2 separate regions of the Homo sapiens genome follow, and region 1 is linked to region 2. The links come from fine-mapping of genetic effects on gene expression. A gene starts in region 2. The other region holds a variant in brackets. All regions are shown on one strand. Distances are from middle to middle. Region 1 has its middle 11 kb from the start of PRKCQ-AS1. Region 2 holds the start of LINC02648 (long intergenic non-protein coding RNA 2648).

Region 1 (11,298 bases), 26 kb after region 2:
AACAAATGAAAACTGTTTGAGGTAATGTACATGTTAATTAGCTTGATGTAGCCATTCCACAATGTACACATATTTCAAAACATCATATTGTGCACCATAAATAGACACGGTTTTTAAAATTTCTCAATTTGAAAAAATGTTTTAGAGAAGAAAGCAAAGAAGACAAAAAGCAAGACCTTACTGCTGAGCCTGAATCCACCGGCCTGGATACCAGTGGATTTTCCTGAATGAAGTCACTGATTTTTTTTTTTTAAGTAATCATTACTTTTCAATTCTAGGACTTAGAAAATGCTTGTAACATATTTGCAAGGCAGTAAAGGATTAGTCACTGAATATATCAATGTGTTAAAATGATAAAATAATTAGGCAGGCAAGATGGAAAAGGAAAAAGGCTTTAAAATCTGCAGCGGAAGGATGGATTTAGATAGCTGCCTCATACCTCCTCCTTCTTGTTTTATATTTTTAATCCTGTTAAAAAAAATCACTCCCTCAACAAATATTCTTTGAATGGTGACTGTGTATCATGGGAAGGTTACTGGAGGCACAGGCTTAAAGTCAACACTGCTTTCAAATCTACACTCTGCCATCTACTCACCCATGGTTTTTGCAAATTGTGCGTATTTTCTGATCCTCAATTTTCTTTTCTGTAAAACAAAGATATAATATCTACCTCATAGTCTAATGTAAGAATCATATTTATAAAAGTTCTATAATATGCAATCAATTAATGGAAACTTAAAGATTAAAAAGTTTCATTTTCCATATCATCAAAAAAATGGAAAGATAAATTACTGTATGATAGGGCATTTGCTAATTTCCTAGCTATAATTTCAGCAATTGTGATAGGCTCTGCCTACAGAAATAATTTTAGTTGGAATTTAAATATCTCTATTAAATCTTTAAATTTCATTAGGAAACATAAATTCTGACTTCTCATTTAAAGATGGCCTATCCAATGTCCATGTATTTAGTTTCTCTGCTTCTCTGACTTAAAAAGAAATGGTATACTGAAAGTTATTTATTTGTTTCACATAATTCTACTTAAATCGCTTGAGATATCTGCTTTCTAGCTTCTCATTTAAAAAATCTCTCAAGTAATCTTGAAATACACAGTAACTTTTATTTTGATTTTCCCATTCAGCTTGGTGTTTAATTCTTTGAGATTCAGTGATTCAAGCTTTTAGTAAATTACCATTATGATTCTATTACATCATCAACTCCAGAATCATAGTACCAAGAGAAAAAAAATATATAAACTCACAAGTTTAAATTTGCTACAACTAATTATTGAAAAAAGCATTTTAATACTAAATCAGATTTTTAAGGCAGAGATCATACAACTGATACAAACTCCAAAAATTAGCAAAATCCCTGACACTCATTAATAAGCTCATTGTCTTTGATAGTGTCGTAATGATGTTTTTATTACATGAAAAGCTTTGTATAAGTTGGAAAAATACTTACGAGACATCATCAAATGTCTTTTTTTAACCTACATAAAAATAGCAACTAAAAAAGCACATCAGAAACATAATACCCTCAGTTAAAGAGTCGTTTTTGTCTGAAAATGGAAGAAAATCTAACATATTTACCATTTCCCCACAGTTGGCATGTCTCTATCAGTTAGAAAGGAGGACAAAAGTATACAGTGAAATGTGATTTCACTCAGTAGCTTGAGGCAGCCAGCAAAAGAATTTTGACCTTACAGTGTCTCCTTCAAAGGATGCTGTTCGAGCAAGTGTTTTCTTCACAAAAAGCAAAACCAGTCACTGTTCAAAACCAACATGGCTAGGCTGAAAATTTCAGCAACATCTGTGAATTTCTCTGCAAACTCATCAACAGGAACAGGTGGTAATTTACCAACCAAATAAGCAAGGTAAATGACTCCACAGAGAACTCCTTTGTATAGGACGGACTATGGGGGTTGAGGAAATCAGATTGCATTCTAGAGATCCACTACGTAACATTGTGCCTGTAGTTAACAACACGAAACTGTGCACTTAGAAATCTGTTATGAGGGTAGATCTCATATTAAATGACCTCCTAAAATATGCTGGAATGATGTCTCTCATCTTTTTTTCTGTTTAAAATTAGGTGTAGTATTTACACTGTTTTATTAATTTTACTATTTTTGTCAATAGTGTTAAGGAATAATTTACATACAATATAATTCACACATTGTAATTGTACAAGTCAATGATTTTTTCCAAACATGTATCATGTAACCACTATCCCAATCGAAACATAGAAAACCGGTGGCAGTGGGCTTGGGGGAGGGGTTGAGGGGGGGCAAGGGAAGACAGGGAGATGTTGGTCAAAGGATACAAAATTTCAGATAGAGGGGAGGACTCCTTCAAGGGATCCATTGTGCAACATTGTGACTCTAATTAATAACAATGTATTGTTATTACTTGAAATTGCTAAGAGAGTAGATTTTAAGTGTTCTCACCACAAATCAACCGTAAGTATGTAAGGTAATGCGTATGTCAGTTAGCTTGATTTAGCCATGCCACAAGGTGCACACATGTGGAAATATGTTGTATACCATAAATATATACAATTATATTAAAATTAAGCGTTAACTTAAATAAATAAATAAATAAATAACTTTTTCAAAAAGATATAAAATAGTTTCATCTTGCCAGAAATGTGTCTTATGTTCCTGTGTAGTCAAACTCTGTCCACCACCCTCTGACCCTGGAATCCACTAATCTAATTTTGACCGCCACAGATAAGGTCCTGCCTGCTCTGGTATTTGAGGCAATGGAATCACAGGGTCTGTGCTCTTCTTCCGAGACTAGCTCCTCTTACTCAGCATCGTGTGGAAGGGGGTCTTCCTCAGCCATTCATTTGCACAAGGTGTCTGCAGCAACAGCACCAAAGCCACACTCCAGACTAGTAGGAGTTATCCATATGGCACGAGTGCCATCTGTGTCAGTTCTTAAAATGTTTCTCCTCTGGCCAAGGGAGGGAGGCAACCACAGTGCTGCTCAGGACACTGAAGGGATCCCTTCCTCCCACCTTGCTGGAGCCTCCCGGTAGGAGCCCAGGCCAGCCAGCAACCCGACGTTCTGCCTTGTGAAACCTGAAGAAGTCAACTGAGTGAGCCTGGACTTCTGACCTACAGAACTGTGCAGCAATACATTTTGGTTCTAAGCTACTTAGTTTGTAGAGGTTTTTTACAGCACCTGTAGAAAACCAATACAGCTCCCTATCTGAAAGATAGGGACTCTGACTCTACACTGTTAGAATGATGACCAATGAATAAAGAAAGATGACCATTGTGTTATGACTAATGTTCACGGAGCCAATTTGATGCCAGCTGTCCAAAAGAGGATATTCCATGTGAGGTAAAGAATTTGCTCTTTGTTTATATTTGTAAATGAATTAAATACTTCTTAAGACGTGAAAGGACTAATTAAATCCATAGCTACCCAATTCTTCTGCATAAGTAAGTGAATTATTTCATATATCTGTGAATGTATTGTGATTAGTTACATTTAATTCATGCATTCATTGAACGAACGTTGTTTGAACGTCTACTATGTGCCAAGTACTCTCTAGTTGTTGGGATACAATAATAAGTGATACACGGGGAAAATCCCTGCTTGCATAGAGTTTCTATTCCAGAAAGGTGAAGCCAACTGGGAAGAGGGATGGGGAGGGAGATAGGGAAAGGGAGCATAGGGTCTAGTGTGTATGTGTGGACAGGGGTTACAGAGGGCCTGAAATTTAAAACAGAGTCATCAGGGAAATCATCCTGGAGAAATTGATGTTCAAGCCAAACATGGAGACTTGTGCCCTGGGCTCCAGCCTGCCGGCATGCTAAGAAGCAAACAGGGGCTGATGCAGCTGGAGCTGGGTGGGGAAGATGAATCAGAGGCGGATCTGGGGCCTAGGGACTGGCCAGGTCCTGTAGGGAGAAGGAAGCCCTGGGGGCTGGGACAGAGTGGCAGGTATGACTCTGCTGTTAGGGAATCTTTCTGGCTGCTTGTGCCGAGGGCAGGCTGCAGTGGAACAAGTACTGGAGGAGTCCTCCCACCCATCAGGAGTCCTCCCCAGTGCTATCCTGTATTGATACAAATGCATGTTTCACCATGCACATCTGTGCTTGTGTATAAATACGTAAGATAAGATCTTGTCTGGCAGATAAGAGCTTGGTACAGAACAGCTCAGTCCCGCTCTCCTGTTCTATGTATGCTGCGGTTCTTCCCTTTAAAACTGAACCTGCACGTGAACATGACTTGCATCTGTTTTTATTGATACCCTGAAGAGCTCTACGCATATTCTTATTTGATTGTCATCAGTAAAGCAATTAGAAGAAAAAAATCTAAACTACTATGTATGTATTACTCCGTTAACACATTTTTCTCTTGCAGGTTGAACAGCTGGTTTCTTGAACCAACGCATAACATTTATTGGAGTGGTTTCCCACCCCCTCCTGCTAGGTACCCCGGCCATCTGGAAAGAGGACTTCCGAAGTTCAAATACCAGTCTCTTGTGAAAATAGAATTTACTTAAAACTTACTCCATATCTCTAGTAGTTGTAGATGTTTACAATTTAGAAAATTCAAAAGAGTTTTTCTTTTGTGTTTTGCATTTCTTTCTGATTAACCAATTAACTCAGATGTGTGCGCATGTCGTAAACTTAGTTGGTGCTCTCCAAATATTTATTGAAGAATTAATTAATTTTAGGTATCAGGTAAATTCAACTGATCACAGCAAACTACGGAACCAGTAGCTGAAAATAACTGTGAAGGTAATTGCTACAGAGGAAATGCTATTTGAACAAGCTAATTTGCTTCAAGATGGGATCTGAAAAGGGATTCTTGGAGCTACTTGGGTATGAGAAGGACTGCCTGAAAAGACATTTTCTTTAGGCTTCCCAGAATTTGAATTAAAAGAGAAGAGAGAGACTGCTTGAAGACACAGTGGAAGATTAAAAATATCCCTGGCACTAAAGCCTTCAGAGTTCTTCAACCACAACTGCCCTGGTTGCAACAACAGAGGCCACTGGGCCCCATTTTCATCAACTTTTGAAAATTGCAACAATTAACAGTGTTCTTCTCAAGA[G/A]AAAACTCTTCTGACATGGGTTTTCATGTTTAAAGTAAAAAAGGAACACCCCACAAACATTCTTTCTGACCTACACCTTTTCTATTTTCTAGTGGAAATTGTAACCACAGGTTACCATGTTTTCCTTCCTGTGTTTGAAAACCACATGTGTTTTAGTGAAAACATTAAGGTGAGTAATGAAATGGAAGGTTTCAAAGTGCCAGCCACCTGTCACTAGAAATGGAAATATCTCACTTATTCTTTCTTCTACAGCAATAAATTAGAGTGAGCAGAAGGTGTAATTTTTAGTCAATCCATCTCAGCTGAATACAAATCATGCATCCTGCTGGAGTAAAAATATTATACAAATATTTGTCAGAGTTAGGTTCTTTTGCACTTTATGGATTTATCAAGTGGAAAGAAATGTTATCTCATCCATTGCTTTGTTTTACAGCAGAGGAAACTGAGGCCCAGAGAGATCATGGGACTCCCCAAGTCCTCATGGCTTGTCAGTGGTGGAGCCCAGACCTGTCATGATCATGAATCTGGGAGTTCTAGGACTCTGAAGTCCACCATCTGCCACCACAGCACACTGCCCTGCTCCCCTGCTCCCACAGCAGATAACAGCAGAAAAGGGGCAGGGAGGGGCAATACTGAGTGCTTCCTAGGAACTTCCACGTTTTATTTCAACTCATTCTCACCTGTGAGTAGATAAATACAAGCAGAGGCGTGTTGTACAAACTAGCCAGCACCTACTATGTGAGCATGTTCTTCAAGTATCAATGGAAGATGTTTGTTACGAGGATTTGTTGCCGTTACAGGTGAGGAAGAAGGTGACATGTTTCTTTAAGGCTGAGAGTCAGAAGCCAAACAAGTTAACATCTACTCTTTTCTAAAAGCATAGCTTGACATTTTCCTCTATTTCTCTGACTTTCTCAGCAACACCAGAAATATCCTTAGGACCATAAGCTAATTGCCAGCCGACTCACTGGAGGGGATGGTATCTCAGCAGCCACAGGTGTCTGCCAGTGAAAAGCTGAAGGTGTAGCTGGGTGAGGAGAGCAGTCAGGAGCCTGATGTCCATTCCCACCTGGCCATGTGCGGCTTCCTCTGCCTGCCTCACTCTGTCACCCTGTGCCCCTCTCTGCTCTGGGCACAGCTGGCTACTGAGGGATGAGCCCCTCAGGACACCTCCTCCTTGAATGACTACTATCCCAGCACTTGATCCTGGATTTAGCAGCTGTGCCAACTCAGTTTTGTCTGGGTAATCAGTACATGATGCAAAAACATGCAAGAGACTCACCTGTTATCCGTCACAGAGGGTCTGCCTCAGATCACCGGTATTGTTCAATCACCTGGGAGGCTAAACCACGGATCAAAATGGTTCTCCATGAGCAAAGACAAATATGGTGAAACAATGATCAAGAGGATATTTGTCTCAAGCTATCAGAGGTGTATCCTCCAGCAGTTTAGGAAGATTTTCAACTCCTTAAGGAAAGAAGTACAATTAAGTACAATTGAACAATTCAGAAAACAAGATGACAAATTCTTATCATCCAACCCTCTTTTATTTATTTTTCCATAAGTTTTTGGGGTACAGGTGGTATTTGGTTACAGGAGTAAGTTCTTTAGTGGTGATTTGTGAGATTTTGGTACACCCATCACCCAAGCAATATACTTTGCACCATATTTCTAGTCTTTATGTCTCGCCGCCCCCTACCCTTCCCCCCAAGTCCCCAAAGTCCATTGTATCATTCTTTTGCCTTTGCATCCTCATAGCTTAGCTCCCACATATCAGTGAGAACATATGATGTTTGGTTTTCCATTTCTGAATTACTTCACTTAGAATAATAGTCTCCAATCTCCAGGTCACTGCAAATGCTGTTAATTCATTCCTTTTTATGGCCAAGTAGTCTTCCATCGTATAAATATACCACAGTTTCTTTATCCACCAACCCTCCTTTTAAATATTCTTTGTCCAGCCCCAAGACTTTTAGCCTGAAAATCTCATCTCTTATTAACTCAAATTAAAATCTCCCAGATGATTATGTTCCCTGTACTTATACTTTATGTCAATGACGTGATGACACTTTCACCTCACAGATGAGACGCGCCACCTCTGAGGGACAGAGTGAGGAAATCCTCACCACTCCTGCTTGTTCTTTGTGCATTCTTGCTATTGGATTCCATTTAGAAATTGGCATGGACTGCCTTCTGCCCAGGTTGAGATAAATTCTACTTTTTAAGTGTTTGAGGCATTTAACCACTGACTACAATGTGAAATTCACACTTTACTGAACTTTTTCCTTTATCGAGAATTTTTTAAAGCATTATTATTTGCTCTACGTAAGACATGGTGCCAGAAAACCAGAGGAGATACCAAAAGAGATATAAAACAAACTCGGCCCTGGGGGGACAGAGATGGGGGTGGACAGGGAGGAAGCAGGAGAGAGAGGAAGAGAGAAAGGTGACAGTGAAATCGAGAGGTCGGAGGAAGCCCCACAGAGAAGGAGGGGGCTTGAATCACAGCAGCGAGGACGGGAAAGGGCTGGAGACACCATTTTAACTAGCACGTCACTCACCAAATAAGAAAAAAGGATTCAGAAAGCATGCATGGCTTATTTAAGGTCACACTGGCAGTAAGCCTAACTTGTCACCTTACAGAACAGCAGAGAGAGAGGGAGAGAGAATGAACACACTTGTCCCCTGCCCTCCACTCACTAAGCTCCTGACGACCTCTCAGTCACCTGGGAAACCAACCCTGTTTCTGGCTACGTAGAAAGGGCTTTGTAAATACAATAATATTATACTTGATTTTCAAGTAATCTTTTTACTGGAATTGACACATGCAGAAAAGACTGCAAGTCACAAATACACAGCTAGATGAACTTTTCCAAAGTGGACCTACCTATTACCTATCCCCTACATCAAGTCATAAAAATAGCACCATGAGCCATCCTGGTGCTCCTTCCCTGGCACTCCACCACCTGCCTCCCCAGATGCAGTAGCTACTCTCATGACTTTCCATTGCATGAATTCAGTTTACCTGTTTTGGGACTTAATGTAAATACAATCATACAGTATGTCTTTTTTTGGGACCTGGCTTCTTTCACTTGACGTTATGTTTTCAGCGTGTGTTCAAGCTGTGGCATGTTTCTACCGACGAAAGTACCACAGTTTTATTGTGCAGCCTCCAGCTGGTGGACGCTTGAGATGTTTCCACTTTGGGGTGATGATGAACTGGGCTGCAGTGAACATGTTGTACATGTCTTTTAGCGCATCTGTCTACATTTTTGTAGGTTATGTACCCATGACATTCCTGGGTCACTGGTTTTGCATATGCTCAGCTTTAGTAGGTACTGCTAAACCATTTTCCAAAGCTGTATGAATTTACATAAGAATTCCACTTTCTCCACTCCCTCCTCATGATGTACATAATGGACTCACTATGTCCAGGGAGTTACAAAGTAGAGCATTGAATTTTTTGAATTTTCTTTCGTAGCTAAGAAATAAAAGAAAGAATTTAAGTTGAGAACTGTAGGAGAGGTCTTCATTCTATCCAAATGCAATCACAAGGAAAAGAGAAAGCATGAGTCTGCAAAAGGTAAGTAAATGTAGAGAGGTTTGGGGAAATAGATACAGATACAAGTGTTTTGTTTTCTAAAAATCTTTTTAGGGCTTTGACTTTATGGAGTGCACAAAGACTATAACCTCAAGAACTCAAGTTTAAAGAATTTCAGTTCTATTGTTTGGTTTCTTTGGCTCAGGTTTTTACTGCGCTCCTAGGAAAGGTGGAAGCTTGGGAGTAAAGCTGTGATAGCTAAAATGTGTTGCACCAAGCTGAGTTTTATCCAGAAGCCTTTTAAGTTCTTAAATGTTTATTTCTTTTCTAGCTCCCTTGGCAAAGCAACGGACAGGACAGAAAGGTTCTAGAGAACAACCATCACGTCTTTTGCTCAAAGAAACTTCCTCAGTGTGATTAAAATCTGATCCACATTTCTGCAGCCCTCCCAAATTGATGTAACTCCTAAATTTACGTACCTACTCTGGCAGTTCCATATCAGTTGCTTCAGATTGACCTTTTCCTCGTGTTAAAAGCACGTGATCCCACTTATTAAACAAGGAGTTTGTGGTTTTCTTTCACTGTGCAGTGGAAAGGCTTTTAAAAGTTGCTTTGGAAGAAAGAAAATTTGAAGTCATTCTTTGGAGTTATAAGGGCAGATTTAAACAGTATCATTACTCATTCTTTGAGGTTTTTTATGTGTGTAGGAATAATATTTGTCCTTCAGTAAAAAACAAAGTAGCTAGTCCTATTCAGAGCAACCAGAACATTCCAATCAGCTGCCTAAAAATCACATCTGCAATTTTCTAAAAAATAAAACATCAGCAAATCAAGTAAAAACCAAAGAAACAATTTTAAAAATGATGTTGTGGCCTAAACTATAAACTGTATGGTATAGAAATTTTGTGCTTCAGTCTCAAGATATGTGACCTCAGCCACAAGGAGGATAAAATGCCAAAGTACTGACAGGTATCTATATTTTGAGATTAGCAATCATTTCAAATTTCTTTTATAGACAGTTTTATATTTTTCAAAATATTTATGGTGAATATTTATTACTTCATAATCAGGCAACCAGTAAAAGTTATTTTTAAAATAAAATAATTCAAAAAAGTATAGATAAAAGAATATTTGAAAACACCAAAATATTATCTGTCTTTAGGTGGTGACATTCTGGCTAATCTTTTTTCTTTTCTGTAATTTCTAGTTGTGTGTGTGTGTGTGTGTGTGTGAGTGTGTATGCATAACCTTTATCATAAGAAAAATAACAAATATTTCTCAAAATCTACATGTGGAATATGACCCTTTCTTTTAGCCTTTGCAGCAGGTGGTGAGAATTCTCTAGACAGAGTTCAGCAGAGCTCCTAATGAAGCCTGACTGGGTTCTGATCCTGGCTCTGGCAGTCACTTGCTTTGTGATCTTGTGTAAGTTATTTACTTTCTCCGAGCCTCAAGTTCTCATCTGTAATGTGTACATAATCCCCATATCATAGGATTGCTGTAGGGTTAAATAAGATAGTATTTGGAAAATACTGTGATACAAATGCTCTATAATGGGTAGTTATTAATTCAAATTGCACCATTCTCTTCTTGAGGCTTATAGGGATCAAAGCACTTTAGAGGTTATAGCTGCTCAATCTTGCCTATAAAAATGCCAGGATGTGATATGAATATACCCTCCTTTTACTAATTTTAAAATCAACACTTTGAGAAGAGTTTGTGAAATAATGCATGATATTTGTAATCTGTGTAGAAAAGCAAACACATTTTCTGATTTCAAATACCACGTATCTTTGATCTTCAAACATCATATCTCCATTAAATTCTCATAAGAGATGTAAAAAGATTAGTTCATTTTTAAAATTACTTTTAATATTATACAAATATTAAAAATAGAAACGGAAGCTAATAGAAATACAGATGTAAGCTATTAAAACTATTCCTTAAATATAAGATATTTTTCTTCAATCATCATAGTGCATTTTATTTAAGTACCAGGCAATCCAGGTGTGGTTTTGTTTGTTTTAATGAGTAAAATGGAGATAGAACATCTGCCTTCTGGGTGATGTGCTGGACTCCACGCGCATGGCTTTCCCTCTCTTATGTGCTGCCTCTACGTAGTGATAGGCAGACAAAAAGGAAAGGAAATGTCAGCTTGGCTCCACTCCCAGCAGATGAGCCAATCCAAGGTGAAAGAAATAACCCATCTCAAGGTTTGCCTCTTGGGTCCCAAACAAACATTTTGAGGGTGAGATGCTTGAGTTGAGGGATCAACTGTGACCAAGAAACAAAGCACGTCTAAGTGACTCACACAACAGGTGCACATGGTCAGCCACATTAGGCCACTGTGCTAAGCCACCAAGAAAAAAAATAAATCTTTATATTTTTGTTCCACAAAAGTTTTTCTTTAAAAGTGAATGGTCGAAGTGATGATGTAACCAAAAGAGCTGGACACCACACAGAAAGTAATGATTTTCAGCGTTTTCCTGGTACCACCAGTATAGGCTTTTTTGAGGGTGTTTGAAATTTTTTTATACCAGTGAATATAGGAAATGAGCAGTGAGTACCACTAGAAGCAAATAGCAGTACATCCCCCATCGCTGACAATTAGTACTTTCTTTAATTTGATATTTAGTCTCAGAATTTTATAGCTGGAAGAAACCTGATAGAATATCCTGTGTAGC
Region 2 (11,298 bases):
TGACGAACCTGTAGAAGCTCACGAAACACTGATGAAGAAAGCAATGATTAACTGGCTGCCTATTGTGCACATTTCACAGAAATGTTTTGGTCATCATTTCCCCTAATTTCCCTTAAACCCCCCCTGGATCAAGATCCAGAAGCAAAGCTCCGAGAGGTGGTCTCTGAGTGCTAGTTCACTCCCTCCTCTGGTTTGCCGGCTTCTTGAATGAAGCGAACTTTCTTTTCACCAAAGCTCTCTTGAGTTTTTGGCTTTCAAGCAATGAGTAGCCCAGATCTGAGTTCGGTTACAATGATAGTGTTTGTTTGTGTCTCTTAGTGTGGGAATGGGTAGAAAAAATTGTCTGTGCTGAGAGTCAGCCATCCTCATGGGCCAAGGTTAAGGCCTAGTTGAGAAGATGGCTCAGAGGAGCCTTAGCTTAATCAAGAAGAGAGTCTTTGTCAGCGGGCATGTAACCAAGTATCCCCATTTATTAAGACAAAGAGAACGCGTTATTTTTTCATTATTATTTTCTTCTTTTCTCTTTTCTCCTTTTCCCATCTCCCCACTTCCTACTTAGCTCTTTAGAAATGCAATTATAACATTCTGCCTTCTCCAGATGTTCTTTACAAGGCAAGCTTATCTAACTGTATACTTACTTAGAGGCTCCAGAGCAGAAACCTCTCCCCAAGGAGATGCCTCAAGAAACAACAGTCAATTTACAACCCAAAGTATTCCCGGCATGAAACTCTCTCCCACCTGGAGCATATCTTGAGACAAGTCTGCTTTGCAACCTGGTTCTGCCTGTGATGGTGCCGGCTTGAGCAGTAGATAAAGCACCGAGGCAAGTCCCATGGACCCCCAGCTGCTCACTCCCTCCCCCGCATGCCGCTCATGCCAGGCCCCCTTTTAAAAGTGCCCACTTTCTCCTCCAAAATTGAAGCAGTACCCTTAAGGCAGGAAGCCTGGACTTCTTCCCGTAAGCTAGCTTTAGAATAAAATGTCACTTTCTTTATACCAGACCTTGCTCTTGTTGATTGGACTCTGCAGGTGGTGATCAAGTGAACCTGTGATTCGGTTACAGGGAGATTGACCAAGCAGCTCCGGAGCTCAGTTTCTCCCAAAAAGTATCGTATGTAGCTTCTCCCAACGTGGTGATGAGGTTACTCGTGGACACGTAAGTAGACATAGTAGTTATCTCCACACCTTCCATGCTACCCTCCCTCTACGTGTAGCACCCATGAAATTTGAGTGTCAGAGAAGGGCAGGGTGGAGAGACACATCAAAGACTAAAACCAGGACTCTGATTCAAGAGCTAGGCCTGCTCTGCCTCTAGCCGCTAGATCTCCCTTTTTGTTTAAGACAGTCTGAGTTTGCTTTTTGGTTACTTACAACTGAAACCATCCAAACTGAAATATAAATTTTAATATAATCTTTTGGGGTAAATAAGAGAACAAATCAAACATAATCAGAGGACAAACTCTTCATTTATTGTCAAGGGAACTGCAGCTGGAAAGAATAAATACAGAATGGTTTTGCAGTTTAATAGTTTGGTGCTTCATCCATAGAAGGGATAAATTTCCAAACCTATGATTCTATTTGGAAAGATGGTGGCTAAGTCGGGCCCAGTAGTGATCTCAGACACCATCCTTTGTATGCAATGTGGTTGTTCATCTGGGCACCGTTTATTATCCCCAGCAGTAATGGGTTGCTCTAAGCATATGTTAAAATATAGTTAGTGAATAATGACCCCTTTTAAATTCATGTACCTACATAATGTCAATTTATTTGAATACTTGGCTTAAAAACCATTGTATTGAACTAGGCATGGGCACATTGACATGCTACTGCCTTTTATAACCCTGGTCTCTCTACAAGCTCATCCATTATCTCCTAATTAAACAACAAAGGTTCCTTGGAAAGGAACCCCAGTTAGACATCATTACCAAGCATTTTGCCATCATTTGCTAGATTAATGAGACTAATTATACAACCTGCAGCGATGAGTCAAGACCTTGGCGAAACAGGAGAGATGAGGTATCCAAATCCTTTTGTAAATCGCTTTAAATCAAAGCAGTCCATCTCCTATTGATAGACTGGATTACTTCAAGTGTTAGTATCTCTCTTCCTCTCAGTCACTGCATGCTCTGAAAGGGGAATGGATGACTCATAACTCTTGGGAATTCACTCTCTGCCTCTCTGCGACAGCATTGGATCCATTTTCAGCTTTACAGCATTGAGCATGTGGGCTGGGTGAGAACACTAGATATTATATTGGGTCTTCTGGTTTCGATTAGAAGAGGAGATAAGAAGAAAACTCAGTGAAACATGCAGCACATGATTAAGAACCATTCTTATCTAAAAGAATTGGAAAGAAGATTAACATTGGTTCAAAAGGTGGACTCTGAGGGTAAACGACCAGGGCTCCTGGCCCCCTCTCCTTCCTACTTGTGCAACCATAGGGAAATTACTGCATTTAATGTTTTTAAGCCTCATTTTCCCATTCTGTAAAGTGGGAATAATAATAGTACCTTTCATACACTGTTGTCTTGAGAACTCAGTGTGAGAAGGTGCTCAGCCCCAGTGCTTATTAATGCTCAATAAATGTTAGCATATGGTTTCACAAAAAGGATAATGACACTGTTGTTTTAAAAAAAGCTAATATAGATATGTTTATACTTACATGTATTCTTACTGCAGTCTTAGTAGCATTTCAAAGGAGGGACTTGGACGTTTGTAAGATTTTGAAGTCTGAATTAAGATAGGTCTTTCAATGTGGGTGTGTAATTAGGATTGAGTAAAGATCAAGATATAATAGTTTAGGATTGGTAGATAAAGCAATTGTACGGGTTTCCAGGTAAGAGGTTCACACAATCTTAGGATATAATCTGTCGTTTCATGTTTTCTAATGGTGAGTTGATGCGTCTTTCAAGATATTCCTGAAATGAGCAATAAGGTTATTTTCAGGTTTATTTTCCTGGGCAAGAGTTTAATAGACTAGCAAATTATGTTGAAAGAACATAGTGGAATAATAAAGTCAATAAGTTCTGTGAATTTCCATGTTCAATGTAAAATAAAATAGTGGTTAACCCGAAATTCATTTCTATATAAAACTTTTGGCAGTTAATTTTGCAGCAAATTTCTGTGTTAAATTTTATTTTATGAAAAGTGCTGCTAATAACTTTGTATGCATTTACCATCTCTTCATGGACACAAAGGAACCATTAAGGGAAAAGTTGGCCTTAGATCAAAATTTCTCTTCAAGAGAATTCATATTTGTAAAATCAAGAAGCAAGTTACCATACTAAATAATAAAGGATTCCCTGAGGGGCCAGTCTCTTCTTTACTTAGGGTGTCATTAAGGTTTAATTTGTGGTCACACTACTGAAATCTTATTTTTAGAGGAGAAAAAGAAAAACATTAAAAAGAACATGGCAAAAATTCTTCCTTCATGTCAATCAGTAGACTCCATCATATTTTCTCATCATTTAACCACCCCCATGACTACATTCCTCCTAATTCAGTTTAGGAGGATGAATATTCTACAGATCCATAGTGCAACCACTCCCATTGCCCATCCTTCAGATCTCTTGCCCCTTTCATTCTAGGTCCCACCCCCTGGCAAAACACTATCCATTGGTAAACCTGGCTGTTGCAAACCGACAGCCATTTCCACTTGTACTTGACCATGAAAAATTCTTGGTTATTTTGGAAGAGAAAACAGTAGTGTGGAAAGTTCTATGTGAGTGAGGGTTGGCTACTTTCCTGCCACCTGGTTATAATAAAACCAAGTCACAGATTCAACACCACCACGTATTTAGACATTTTTATACGTAATCGTTTATTAGCAGGCAGATGGGGAGGGTTCTGCAAGCTTCGTGGAGACTGAGCTCCCCGACCTTTTAGAGATCTGTCCACATCTTGCCAGAGACTCTCTGGGTCATACACAACATCGCAGAAAGAGGACTCTGTGACCCCAACGCCTGTCACCAGGCAACAAAAAACCGTCTGACTCATTCTAAACACAGGCCCAGATAGGGATGTAATTTGCTATTCTAAGTGTAAGTAATGTCTCTAAAATATTTTAGGCCACCCATACCGCTTTACTACCACTAATCTTTGTAATCTCAGCACTTTGGGAGGCCGAGGAGGGTAGATCACGAGGTCAGCAGTTCGAGACCAGCCTGATTAACATGGTGAAACCCCGCCTCTACTAAAAATACAAAAATTAGCTAGGCATGGTGGTGCGCGCCTGTAGTCCCAGCTACTCAGGAGGCTGAGGCAGGAGAATCGCTTGAACCCAGGAGGCAGAGGTTGCAGTGAGCCAAGATCATGCCACTGAACTCCAGCCTGGGTGACAGAGTGAGACTCCATCAAAAAAAAAAAAAAAAAAATTCCCATTTCCAACAATTGTGTTAATTAATGAGTGTCAAACTTCACAAAGAAAAATGCACTCTTAATATTTATTAAGCTACTTTTTTAAAAAGCCTGGAGTTGACCAGGGATAGAAGGAATCAAATTCCTTGTTGTAAATGCCTATGGAGGATGGACTTTCTGACACCCTGAGAGTGAATTTCTAAGACAGCAACTGAAGGCCCCATGAGCAGACTTCAACTTTCTAATCTGGAGGGAAGTTTTAAATGATGTTCAGGATACAAAAGGCTAAAGATGTGTGACACATAGTACATGCAAGTGGAATTTGTTTCCCTTGTTTAAAACTAATCATATCTTTTTTTTTTTTGAGATGGAGTCTCGCTCTGTTGCCCAAGCTGGAGTGCAGTGGCATGATCTCAACTCACTGCAACCTCCGCCTCCTGGGTTCAAGCGATTCTCCTGCCTCAGCCCCCCGAGTAGCTGGGATTACAGGCGCCCACCACCATGCCCAGCTAATTTTTGTATTTTTAGTAGAGGCGGGGTTTCGCCATGCTAGCCAGGCTGGTCTCAAACTCCTGACTTGAGGTGTTCCGCCCGCCTTGGCCTCCCAAAGTGCTGGGATTACAGATATGAGCCACTGCCCCCGGCCTAATCATATCTTTTTAAGCAATCAATTGTTTCCTAGAGAAAAATATAACTAACTTACCTTTTGAAATTAAGCTCTTCCCTTTTGCTTCAGGAAAAACTCACTCAAACCAGGCTTCTCCTCTGTTCTCACACTAGAACAATAAACACAGAAGACTTCTGTGACCAAAGGTGTGGGAGTTTCTTCTCACCACCAAGCAGTGGACACCAGCTGGGTGTCCTCCAACTGAATTCCAACTCTATCTACCTGGAGATAGTGACCAATCCCATTGGTTGTAGGCTCAGTCCCCAACCCCCTCCTTCCTCCTAGTTGCAAGTCCAAGCCTCCTGAACTCTGACCAACTGGCATCAAGTCAGGGTTTCCACGACTCTCCCTGGGTTTGATTAATTTGCAAGAGCAGCCCACAGGACTCAGGGAAACACATTTACTGGTTTATTCTAAAGAATGTTGCAAAGGACACAGATGAAGAGATGCATATGGTGAGATACATGGGATGGGGTACAGAGCTATCATGTCCTGGGCATGACACCCTCCAGGGCCCTCCACGTGTTCCACTAACTGCAAGCCCTCTGAATTCTGTCCTTTTTAGTTTTTACGAAGCCGTGACTGATTAAACCATTGGTCATTGGTGATCAACTTGACCTTCTTTAATGTGACACATGTGCTGCCTAAAAATTCAATTCTGAGTCAAACTTGAGGTACACACAGATGTCATTGTCAACTGAAGGGCTACAACTTTTTCCCTTGCTCTTGGTGTTTATTAAATAACAGAAAATTTGTTCCTATGTGCGGGAAGTTGCAACTGCAGTGAAGTGTTCATGGTTTCCCTGAGGCTGACAGAGCACTCTCTTACCCAGAAACCCAGGACTCGCCTCCAGAGTGATATGTGAGTCCCATCTAGAGAGTCTGGGGTTGCATGGGGTGCAGGATTCTTCCTCTTCTCTCCAGACTCTGTTCTCAGACTGAGTCAAAGATTCAACGAAACGCTCCCTCGCCTGGTCATGCACTTGTGTTTAAAGAGAGGGTAGGTATGGTTCAGTTTCATTCTACAGTGCTGCCAGGTTCTGCTCAATAAGAATTGAGACTTACTGATGGCCCCAGGCCCAAGCAACAATGGAAACATCTCAAGGATTTCTTTTGCCTCATGGTTTTTTCCAAAACTTTAGTTTTCTTTTAAATCCAAAAACTCTTGACATTTTTGGTGAAAACATTTTCTCCAGGGCTGTGCAGAGGCTTATTCAACTGGTTGATGTTATGAAAAACATCTGCCAATGTGACTAGTGTTAATAAGCCATTCTCCATCTTCAAAGCACTCCAAAAACCTGGTTTTGTGTCATCTTGAAAGTATCCCTCAAGCACAGTCATGACATTTCTGTTTGGAGGAGAAGATGATGTCTCTTTATCTGACTTTTCACAAAATTTTAAAAATCTCAGTTGAACTTATCCCTGTTTGACTGTATTTGCAGGAGCATTCAAACCTTTTGTTACTTTCTTTTCTTTATTTTTTTTTTTTGAGACAGAGTCTCACTCTGTTGTCCAGGCTGGAGTGCAGTGGCGAAATCTCAACTCACCCCAACCTCCGCCTCCTTGGTTCAAGTGATTCTAGTGCCTCAGCCTCCCAAGTACCTGGGACTATAGGTGCCCGCCACCACACCTGTCTAATTTTTGTATTTTTAGTAGAGATGGGGTTTAAAAAATTCTGAGCAAACTATTGCAAGGACAGAAAACCAAACACTGCATGTTCTCACTCATAGGTGGGAATTGAACAAAGAGAACACCTGGACACAGGAAGGGGAACATCACACACCGGGGCCTGTCGCAGCGTGAGGGAGGGGGAAGGGATAACATTAGAAGATATATCTAATGTAAATGACGAGTTAATGGGTGCAGCACACCAACATGGCACATGTATACATATGTAACAAACCTGCACATTGTGCACATGTACCCTAGAACTTAAAGTATAATTTAAAAAAAAAAGAGAGATGGGGTTTCACCCTATTGGCCAGGCTGGTCTTGAACTCCTTACCTCAAGTGATCCGCCCACCTTGACCTCCCAAAGTGCAGAGATTACAGGTGTGAGCCACTCTGCCTGGTCATTCCAAGAGTTTTTGACCCCAAGCACTACTGCATGAACAAATCAGTGTGTTGTGACAATGCCAGGTTTTTTTCTTATTCTACAAAAAATGTGAAGCCTCTTATCAAGCCAACCCTGGATGAGGTGTTACCGGTACAGATGCTAACACAATGCCCCCAAGACAGATGCCTTGTTTAAAGATACGTAGACAAAATTTAAAGTAGATCTTGGCCTTTGCTTGGTTTGAGCAGCTCTTCATAGCTGAAAATATTGCTTGAATTTCATTACTATTTACCAACCTTACTTACAAATGACATGACTGGTGTCAAGTTAGATGCTGCTGCTGCTTTTATCAGTTTATTATTCAGAACTTTTCAGGGTCAAGAGGCTTTTCAGCAATATCTCAATTTGTCTTACCATTTGAGAGTGGATTATTTTTTTCCAGTTTCTTGTACTAAAAATGGGACTAGGATTTAACTCAGTATAATTTTACATCCTAGGGATTATTAAGTTTTCACAAAAAGTGTGGCCTTTCCTTTTATGGGCAATAAGTTCTGCTAGTACGTAAGTCGAATTCTGAGTCATTTCTCAGAAAGTGACTCTTTTTAGCAAATGCTTTACACTGTTTTGAGATTCCAATGGCGATGTCAAATAATCAGCATCTTTACTTCTGAGATGTGAGGTAAAGGGTCTTTTCCATTCTGCTGGAGCCATCACTGTGGTCACAAGTTGTTTGCCAGGAAAGACACAAAATCTGGCAAGACACAAATGCCCCGTGAAATTCATTGATAAGCAGTTTCCGTTGTAAATATGAACATACAAATTTATTACATACCCTTTATTGCACTTATACAATGAAATGACTAAGAAGATTGTAGTTCTTCATCACTTTATCAGCACAATCTGTAGGTCTAGACTTAAATTATCCTCTTCTTTCTCACATCTCGTTTTCAGAAATCACCACATGGACTCTCCAACATGATTGGCAATATAAATGCTAATAAATGATAACACAGAGGGCATAATAAATACTTGAACAGAAATTGCAAAAAAAAAAAAAAAAGAAAATGTCACAATAAAATTCTCTTCTAACCTATATAAACCTTGCCTTGCAATGCTTACCACAGCAAAATGCCAGAGCAGAAGCTGAGTTGCAACACACACAAAAATTCCTTCCTTAGAATGGAAATGTCCCTGCAATTTACTATTAGGTTGGGTGCAACTTGCTTGCTCCCTTGTATCTGTCAGGAGTGCAGAAGGTTGGTCAGGGGAGGTGATCTTGGGAGGGAGAGACTGGTATCTTCAGACTAGAGTCTTTCCATGGGCACTATAGCATCCACCGATTATCAACAGCCTTCCCCAATTTGCACAGAAAATTGAGAATGGACTCCTGCAAATAAACACAGTCCTGTTCACAGCAACACAACAAGGATTAAGGATCCCTAACAAAATCCCAACAGGGCTGCTACATCACCAGCATTGTGCAGTATGTGAAGTTCAAAAACTGGGGTTTATCCGTAATGTGATACCAACTTACTCCTGCAAGAATGGCCATAATCAAAAAATCAAAAAACAGTAGATGTTGGCGTGGATGCAGTGATCAGGGAACACTTCTAATTGCTGGTGGGAATGTAAACTAGTATGGCCACTATAGAAAACACTGTGGAGATTCCTTAAAGAACTAAAATGGAACTACCATTTGATCCAGCAATCGCATTACTGGGCATCTACCCAGAGGAAAAGAAGTCATTATAAGAAAAAGATACTTGCAGATTCATACGAAAAGTCATTATACGAGAAAGATACTTGCAGATTTATAGCAGCACAATTCACAATCACAAAATTGTGGAACCAACCCAAATGCCTATTAATCAACAAGTGGATAAAGAAACTGTGGTAGAAATATACAATGGAATACTTCTCAGCCATAAAAAGGAATGAATGAACGGCATTTGCAGTGACCCAGATGAGATTGGAGACTATTATTCTAAGTGAAGTAACTCAGGAATGGAAAAGCAAACATTGTATGTTCTCACTGATATGTGGTAGCTAAGCTGTGAGGACACAAAGGCATAAGGATGATACAATGGACTTTGGAGACTTGGGGGAAAGGGTGGGAGGGGTCAAGGGATAAAAGACTGCAAATAGGGTGCAGTGTATACTGCTCGGGTGATGGGTGCATCAAAATCTCACAAATCACCACTAAAGAACTGTAACCAAACATCACCTGTACCCCCAGTAACCTACTGCAAAAAAAATTTTTTTAATTAGGGTTTACTTTTTCATTCACACTCCCTTGCAGAATCACCAGTGACATCTCACAAGATGCCATTAGAGAAACTGTGTCCTAGAGCGTAGCTTAAATGAGCATGCACATTTATGTCTGACTATTTCTGCTAAAGAGTTCTTAAAGAACAGATGTCAGCCTGCTGATGCTCCACTCTCTCATTGCCCTATGCATTTGAGTGTTTCAGAAGAAATTCATATGACCCCGCTGGGGCAGAGATTCGTCTGATGCCATGAAACTTCGAGTAGACACGAAGGAAAGGCAAGAAATTAAACACAGGAGAACTTGGTTCAGTATCTGGGGCCAGCAAGGAATTATGCACTTAGAACCCAGATGATAGGTCTCAGTGAGGCAGGTTATCTCCACCTCTCCCTATCCCCACCCATCAAGCCCAAAGAAGGTGGATTAGTCTGTTTTCATGCTGCTGATAAAGACATACCCAAGACTGGCTGATGTATAAAGAAAAAGAGGTTTAATGGACTCACAGTTCTGTGTGGCTGGGGAGGCCTCACAATCATGGTGGAAGGCAAAAGGCACATCTTATATGGCGGCAGGCAAGAGAGAATGAGAGAGCCAAGTGAAAGGGGAAACCTCTTATAAAATCATCAGATCTGGTGAGATTTATTCACTACCACAAGAACAGTATGGGGGAAACTGCCTCCATGATTCAATTATCTCCCACTGGGTCCCTCCCACAGCACGCGGGAATTATGGGAGCTTCAATACAAGATTTGGGTGGGGACACAGCAGAACCATTTCAGAAGACATAAAGGCTTCTCTCACCTGGAGGATCCTTCACACTAAAGGTTCCTGGAACAGGCACCACCGAATCCTGGATTCATCTATAGCAGGAACAGGTAAGGGATCAGAGAACAATGATCCCTTACCCCATTACAAAATGTTCATATTTTAAATGTCTCCTTTACTTTCTTGCTAAGTACATGGTAAAACCTAGTGAAAGCAACATTAGGCAAGCCCAAGTCCTTATTTTTGTCGATTTTTTCACCCAGACCAATATTTGGGGTCTGCTCTAGTTCACAGATTGGTCTCATTTTGAACTCATGTTGATAAATCTCCAATAAACACTCTTCATGGCCTGGAAATTCTTAGAGGCTTTTCAGGTAAGCCTGCTCTACCAGCTCTTATCAAAGTGACCGCTCTCTTGCGTGTTACCAAATATGTTGGATATTTGTATCCTGATTTTACACCACCTTTTAGTAGCATTTTGTGCATTTCACTATCTCATCTTTTATTTTTTGCTACAAGAATATGTATTCATTGTAACAACTTTATTGAGATATAATTTACATACCATGCAAATAATTCATTTAAAGTATACAATGTGGTGGTTTTTAACACAATCTGTTTTGGAATATTTCATCACCCCAGAAAGAAACCTGTACCCACTACCCATCACTCTCTAATCCCCCCAGCCCTCCTTCCAGCCCTAAGAAACCAGTAATCCACTTTCTGTCTCTAGAGATTTATCTATTCTGGATATTTCATATAAATTGAATTATATATCATGTGATCTTTTATGACTGGCTTCTTTCACAGAGTATGTTTGCAAAGTTCAGCCATGTTGTAGTATATATCAGTATTCCATTCCTTTTTATTGCCAAATAATATTTCACTGTATAGATCTACCACATTTTGCTTATCTATTAATCACATGGCGGGCATTTGGGTTATTTCCAGCTTTTAGCTATTATGAACAATGCTGCTGTGGTCATTCATGTACAAGTCGTTGTGTGGACATATGTTTCATTTCTTTTGGGTATATGCCTATGAGTAGAAGTGCTGGGTCATATGTTAACTCTGTGTTTAACCTTTTGAGGAACTGCCAGACTGTTTTTCAAAGTGACTAAACCATTCTTACATTCCCATCAGCAATGAATAAAAGTTCTAATTTCTCTGCATTCTCATCAACACTTA

Evidence for each region.
Region 1: its variant is fine-mapped to the expression of LINC02648 in whole blood (TOPMed, PIP above 0.99).

The regions. Positions count from the first base shown.
Region 1 is chr10:6,586,192-6,597,489 of GRCh38, reverse strand. No RefSeq gene overlaps it. Among named protein-coding and RNA genes, the nearest start is that of PRKCQ-AS1, 11 kb to the right of the region's middle. The variant G/A (reference allele first, on the strand shown) is at 5,074.
Region 2 is chr10:6,612,538-6,623,835 of GRCh38, reverse strand. It overlaps LINC02648 (long intergenic non-protein coding RNA 2648), which reads right to left and starts at 5,120. Exons shown (of 6, transcript NR_120634.1): 1 at 5,060-5,120; 2 at 2,663-2,918; 3 at 1,974-2,126.